2 linked regions of the Homo sapiens genome follow. The protein of the gene in region 2 purifies or fractionates together with the protein of the main gene of each other region. This does not show direct contact. Each region holds a gene or a part of one and is shown on either strand. Other genes may lie near its edges.

Region 1 (3,500 bases), on a different chromosome or scaffold from region 2:
TAAGGATAATAATTTCATACCTTGCTTATGCTCTCCCTTTGTGGTGAAATCATTATACTACTTTTCTTTCTTTTGTTTTTTCTTCAACTTTTATTTTAAATTCCCGGGTACGTGTGCAGGTTTGTTACATAGGTAAATGTGTGCCATGGTGGTTTGCTGCACAGATCAACCCATCACCTAGGTATTAAGCCCAGCATCCATTAGCTATTCTTCCTGATACTCTCTCTCCCTCTGCCCCTTTGTACTACTTTTCACCATTATGATTTTTACCATATCCACCTGCCAGTTTTACAGTTGATAAATGCAAGGCTGGGGAACAAAGTGAGACCCCCCATCTCTACAAAATAAAAATTTCTAAATTAGCCATGTGTGGTGTTAAACACCTGTAGTCCCGGCTGCTTGGGGCTGAGGCAGGAGGATTGCTTGAGCCCAGAGGTCGAGGCTACAGTGAGCTGTGACTGAGCCACTACTCCAGCCTGGCTGATGAAGCAAGACCCTGTCTCAGAAAAAAAAAAAATGTAGCTCGGGCACAGTGGCCCACATCTGTAATCCTAGCACTTTGGGAAGCCAAGGTGGGGGAGGATTGCTCAAGGCCAGAAGTTCGATACCTGCCTGGGCAACATAGCAAGACCCTGTCTCCACAAAAAGTTTAGAAAATTAGCTGGGCATGTGGCACATACTTGTAGTCTTAGCTACTCAGGAGGCTGAAGCCAGAGAATTGCTTGAGCCCAGGAGTTTGAGGCTGCCATGAACTTTGGTCATGCTACTGCACTCCAGCCTGGGTGACAGAATGAGACCCTATTTCTAAAAACAAAAAATTTAAAAAAGAAAGAAATGTAAGGGAGTTGGAATTCCTCCACACACTGAAGAGTGTCTTTGGCCATAATCATATTTGTGCTCCTTATTACGAAGTACTTGCCAAGGCATCCAGAATAGTGTGCTTACATTGAGTTTTTACCTTGAATTTTATAAAGTATTCTTTACATTTCAAAATAGTTTTATCTGTTCTCTGACTCATATCTTAGAGTTAAACAGGTTAAATTCTCACTGTTACTTGAGGCATGAAGAAAATGAGACATGGAGAAATGTTTTTGTTCAAGGCAGCACTGCTAGCGAATGGTAAAACTGGGATTCTGTGCTGTTTCTGCCTCTTGATAGAACTCCATGTTCATTGTAGGTGGGTCTGCCTCTATCCCTACTGTGATTAGAAAAGGAGGTCAGAACACTTAGGGTGGAAAAGCTTTTGGGGGTAAGAGCTGTGAGAGAAATGAACAGATCAGTCAGTAGTATAGAATCTTGTATATGCCAAGCATTCTGTATATTTATCAAGAAGAGCTCAGTGTCGGTACAAGGGGAAGTATTTCACTTTGAAAAGTTTGTTTATTTAGAGACAAGGTCTTGCTGTCACCCAGGCTGGAGTGCAGTGCCACGATCATAGCTCACTGCAGCCTCAAACTCTTAGGCTCAAGTAATCCTCCTACCTTAGCCTCCCAAGTAGCTGGGACTGTAGACACATGCCACCAGGCCCAGCTGATTTATTTTTAAATTTTTTCAGGGGAGGTGGGATCTTACTGTGTTGCCCAGACTAGTCTTGAATTTCCTGCCTCAAGCAATGCTCCTACCTCACCCTCCTGAGTAGCCAGGATTATAGCTGTGAGCTACCACACCTGGCCCATTTTAGTTTTTAAATGCCACTATGTAATGAGGCATTTAAATTTTTTTCCGAAAAGTCAGGAAAGAAGGACTTGGAGCACATACCTGTTACGGGTTTAAAGCATACTTTAGTCTTGGCCGGGTGCGGTGGCTCACGCCTGTAGTCCCAGCACTTTGGGAGGCCGAGATGGGCAGATCACGAGGTCAAGAGATCGAGACCATCCTGGCTAACATGGTGAAACCCCATCTCTACTAAAAATACCAAAAAAAAAAAAAAAAAAAAAAATTAGCCGGGCTTGGTGGCGGGAGCATGTAGTCCTAGCTACTCAGGAGGCTGAGGCAGGAGAATGGCGTGAACCTGGGAGGCGGAGCTTGCAGTGAGCCAAGATCGCGCCACTGCACTTCAGCCTGGGTGACAGAGCGAGATTCCGTCTCAAAAAAAAAAAAAAGCACACTTTAGTCTCCCACCTACATGAGATTTTGGGCCCCATTGACTTTTCTTTTTTTGAGGCGGGATCTCACTCTTTTGTCCAGGCTGGAGTGCAGTGATCAGGGCTTACTGCAGCCTTGACCACCAGACTCAGGTAATCCTCTCACCTCAGTGTCCCAAGTAGCTGGGACCACAGGTGTACACCACCATACCTGGCTAGTTTTTTCTGTTATTTTTGTAGAGATGGGGTCACCTTATGTTGCCCAGGCTGGCATTAACTCATTTTTGATGGTGCATTCTCTCTACTAATGAAGCATAGTACATAAGTCCCTGCCTTAAGCCTTGAATATTGATAAGGACAATATACTCTAGAAGCTGATGGGTTGAGCTGCTTGCTTAGGAGTGACAAGGGTGTAGCTCTTCTTTCTGAAATCCTTCAGTATTTATCCAAATCAGGGCTGTGGTGAAGACCAAAGTTACTTAAACCCAAACCCAAACACTCCCATATTACTTCCCTGCTACCTGAGTCTAGTTGGTTGATAGTGAAGATAAAACCATAAAAATTACAGGAATTCTCTATACTATCTCGTTTCTTCAGTGAGAGGAAGTTAAATCTTCTAAACAAGTGAATTTTCCAGATGAATAAAAGCTGTGTACCAGAAGGTGTTTTTTGGGTTTTTTTGTTTTTAAATTTTAGAGACAGGGTCTTGGTCTTTCACCCAGGCTGGAGCGCAGTGGTGTGATCATAGCTCATTGCAGCATCAACATTCTGGGTTCAAGCAGTCGTCCTGCCTCAGCTTCCCAAGTAGCTGGTACTACAGGCACATACCACCATGTCCAGCTAATTTTTGCATTTTTTGTAGAGACAGGGTTTGCCATGTTGCCCGGGCTGGTCTTGAGCTGGTCTCCAATTCTTGGCCTCCAGTGATCCACCCACCTCAGCTTTCCAAAGTGCTGGGATTACAGTAATGAGCCACCATGCCTGGCCTACCATAAGTTTTAAAAGTCAGTAATTTTTTTATGGAATGTTGACTAAATGTGTACTGGAATGTTTTTCCTAAACAGTAAATGAATATATTGGTTAACCTCTTATTCGTAATGTGTTTATGGGTCATTATTAATGCTTGGTGTTTATGGGTCATTATTAATACTCGTTTTCCTGCTATACAACAGTACAGTGTTACCAGTGAAATGACTGTATGATGATGCCCTAAAAAAACAAGTATTGAGGCCAGGCGCGGTGGCTCAGCTTGTAATCCCAAGCACTTTGGGAAGCCAAGGCAGGCAGATCATGAGGTCAGGAGATCTAGAACATCTTGGCCAATATGGTGAAACCCCGTCTCTATTAAAAATACAAAAATTAGCTGGGCGTGGTGGTGTGCGCCTGTAGTCCCAGCCACTCTGGAGGCTGAGTCAG
Region 2 (3,500 bases):
CCTGCCACCATCGGGTTGCCGCCCAGGGCCTCCCCATCACTGCAAAGCAGGGGGCAAAGCGGTCAAGGGCCACGGGGTAGGGATGGCTGGCCGGGCTCACGGGCCTTGGTTCTAGGCGCCCTGGTACCCAGCACACCCTGGCCGTGGGGCCACCCCACCCCAGGTGCTGTGTTGTGGAGAGGCCCCCTCATGGTCACAGGGCTTCTGAGCAGGAAGGGGTCGGGGGCACAAGGTTGGACACAGTGCTGCCCTGCGGCCGCTCAGTGGGTGAAGGATGTGGAGCCGCACAAGTGGGCGCTCGTGGAGGAGGCGGGCCCAGCTCAGGGCCACGGGGCTTTCTGTCCTTTGTGTATTTCTGGAGGAAGCCGCTGCCCCACAGCAATGGGTGAGGCTGAGGTGCTGAGGCCACTGTGGGTGGAGCTTGTCCAGGGCTGTCCTGGGACCAAATGCAGGGCTTTGCTGCAGGCAAAATTTGGGGCAGCTTGGCAGACAGAGTGGTGGGAGGGGCTGGCAGATGGCTGGGGAGGCGGCTCTAGCTCCCAGCTCTAGGACCTGCAGGAAGCCGCCCCTGTCTCTGCAGCACCTGGATCCTGGCCCTGTGGAGACCACATCTGGTGGCCTGAACCTCCCATATGACCTGCAGTGGCCTCTCCAATGGCTTCCATGTGGCATCTGCCCACAGAAGACCCCAAGGTGCCCCTGTCCTCTCCAGGGTGTGGGCAGAGCAGGTGGCCAGGCCTTTCTGATGTCTGGAAGCCCCGTCCAAGCCCTTCCCTCGTCTGCTCCAGCCACAGAGCTGCTCTGTCCTCAGCCAACAGTGACCAGCCGGCGGGGGGCCCCTTCTGCGCCCCTAGAAAGCCAGCCCCACCTGCTGCTCGGGCACCCTGGAGGCTGGGGGGCAATGGGAGAGGAGGCCCAGGCCCACCCCTCACCTGTCGCTGTCCTGCTGGGCAGCCTTGGCCCCCACCTTCTTCTCGTCCCTGGCGGGGGTTGTGTCTTCCAGGAAGCTGCGGTCCAGGCGGTCGTCAGGAACAAAGTCCTCCACACTCTGGACCGTTGCTGGGCCCTCTGCGGCCGGGACTGGCTCTGTGAACAGTGATGCCGGGTCCTCTTCACTCGGCACCAGAACCCTCACTGCACCCAACCCCAAGCCAGGCCCACCCGGGATGTGCCCACGGGACTGGGACAAGCAGGAAGAAGCGTGGAGCGCTCCGAAATCCAGGACCCCACCTGTGAGGGCCTGGGGGTCTGGGACCAGTTTGGGAGGGGCAGCTCCAGGGCCTACCTGGAGGTGGAGGGGCTGCCTCGGTGGCAGGTGACGTCCCAAACAGCCTAGAGATGATGCTGCGCCGTGGGGCGGGGGCTGAGGGGCACGCAGGTGGGGGCAGGGCCTCTGAGGGTGGTACAGGGGGCACAGAGGATGGTGGGGCGGCATTGAGGGGCAGCTGTGGGGCGGGCTGGGGTGTGCCGGGGCTGGAGCTCCCCGTGGACACAGCGCCTGCAGGCACCACTGGTGACTGGGAGCCCGGGGATGGGCTCTGCCCGTTGGCCGCCAGTGGGGACGCATGGCCACGGCTGCGAGCCTCCATCATCTCCAGGAAGCTGAAAGGCAGAAGGCGGGTGAGAAGCCTGGCTCCCCTGCCTCTCCCTGAGGCCCTCAGGTGACAGGGGGCTCTCTGCTGCTGCTGCTGGGGCTGGGAAGAGCCACTGTGTTCTGGGCCACCCGCCCCACAGAGGCCATCATCCCCATCCACTTCCAAGGGCAGCAGTGCCAGCCAGGCACGGTGGCTCATGCCTGTAATCCCAGCACTGTAGGAGGCCAAGGCAGGCAGATCACGAGGTCAGGAGGTGGAGACCGTCCTGGCTAACGCAGTGAAACCCCGTCTCTACTAAAAATACAAAAAAAATTAGCCGGGTGTGGTGGCGGGTGCCTGTAGCCCCAGCTACTTGGGAGGCTGAGGCAGGAGAATGGCGTGAACCCGGGAGGCGGAGCTTGCGGTGAGCCGAGATCACACCACTGCGCTCCAGCCTGGGCGACAGAGCGAGACTCCATCTCAGAAAAAGAAAGAGCAGCAGTGCCAAAGGGTGGGGACAGCAGGCACCAGCGTACATGTGTCCAGCTCCCCTGAAAGTCACTTCGGATCTGTTCTGAGGCACAGCTGTTGGGGGCTCCATGCAGAGGTGGCCAGATGGCAGCAACTGGACCTTCCCGTGAGCGGGGGTTTCTGGGAAGAGGAGGGGGCTGGGGCTTGGTGGAGCACGTGCGGCCATCGCAGCATCCAGCTGACCCAACTCTCAGGCCCAGGAAATGCCAGGATTGGTTCAACAGAGAAGCGCCCATGCGGGGGGCTCCATTCTGGGGCTGGCCTGGCAGCTGGAAGCCACGGGTCCCTCTCCAGGCATCAAACTGCCTTCCCTCTCGGTCTCTTGCTGTGTCTGAGCCAACAGCCAGATCCAAGGTGACCCACAGGGCTCTCCTTCTGGAAACAGAGACCTCCTGGGGGGCCTCAGGAGGGCCACTGATTCCGTGGTCCCTGCCTGGGTCCCAGGGGAGGCACCAAGCCCCTAGCTGTACAGGAGCCTGAGGCAGAGAACGGGCCAGCTGTCCCACTGGCCGCAACCCCGGGGCTATGCACTGCCCAGGCCCACTCAGGAGGATGCTCTGAGCCGCCCTCTGCTATCGAGGACCAGAGACCTCCATGTCCTGGCCTGTATGCCTCTTCAACACAGGGAGCTTCCCAAAGTCAAGCAGCTCCCCAGAAAGCACACCCCATGCTGGCATCAATCTGGGAGGCCAAGCCCCTGATGGGCAGGCAGCCCCAGCAGCACTCCATGAGCACCAGCACCTGGCCACGGTCAGCGGTACTCAGAGTGGCAGGCACAGCATGACCTGTATGAGGAGTCCACGCCAGGGGTGACTGTGGGGGGGCTGCTGGGGGCAGTGCAAACCTGAGTCCTCCTCCACCCGTGCCCAAAGGTGACTAATTTACCCCAAACAGGGGACACTCCCCTCTGCTGTCTCCTTGGTGCAGCCCATGGCCCTGCACCACGGCCACGCCCGCAGCCCCCACACCGCCCGCACGGGCGGGTCCGGCCACATACATGCCGTAGTTCTGGTCCTCCGTCTCCTGCTGCACCGACAGCTCCTCCAGCGTGGCGTCCATGTCCAGCTGGTTCGTCTCCAGCTGCCGCAACAGCGTCTCCCTCTGCAGAAAGGGAGCACGCAGGCCTGAGCAGGGCTCCTTCCTGCTGCGAGTGCCCCAGCCCCACAGCCCCTGAATGCACAGGGGACGCCTCCTGCTGCCAAAACCAGGAGATGCTGCAGGGCTGGCTGCTCAGCAACTCATGGAGCTCTGCGCTGGGCCCCACTTGAACCACAGAAGCCCAGAGGATTCCTCTGCGGTGGCCGGCACGACACCTACACACTGCCAGCATGGCTTGGGGGACAGCTGTCAGTCACAGGCATAAACCTCAACAGCAAGCACCCCCACCCACACACG

The links. The genes of interacting proteins can lie anywhere in the genome.
Region 1: the proteins of RABL6 (region 2) and PPP4R3A fractionate together in Homo sapiens (co-fractionation; one large-scale study listed by BioGRID). This does not show direct contact.

Annotation. Positions count from the first base shown.
Region 1 is NC_000014.9:91,500,311-91,503,810, reverse strand, and holds part of PPP4R3A (serine/threonine-protein phosphatase 4 regulatory subunit 3A), read left to right. Parts: intron 1-3,500. UniProt on the Homo sapiens protein: Regulatory subunit of serine/threonine-protein phosphatase 4. May regulate the activity of PPP4C at centrosomal microtubule organizing centers.
Region 2 is NC_000009.12:136,835,448-136,838,947, reverse strand, and holds part of RABL6 (rab-like protein 6), read right to left. Parts: intron 3,207-3,500; coding exon 3,103-3,206; intron 1,603-3,102; coding exon 1,286-1,602; intron 1,087-1,285; coding exon 933-1,086; intron 40-932; coding exon 1-39. UniProt on the Homo sapiens protein: May enhance cellular proliferation. May reduce growth inhibitory activity of CDKN2A.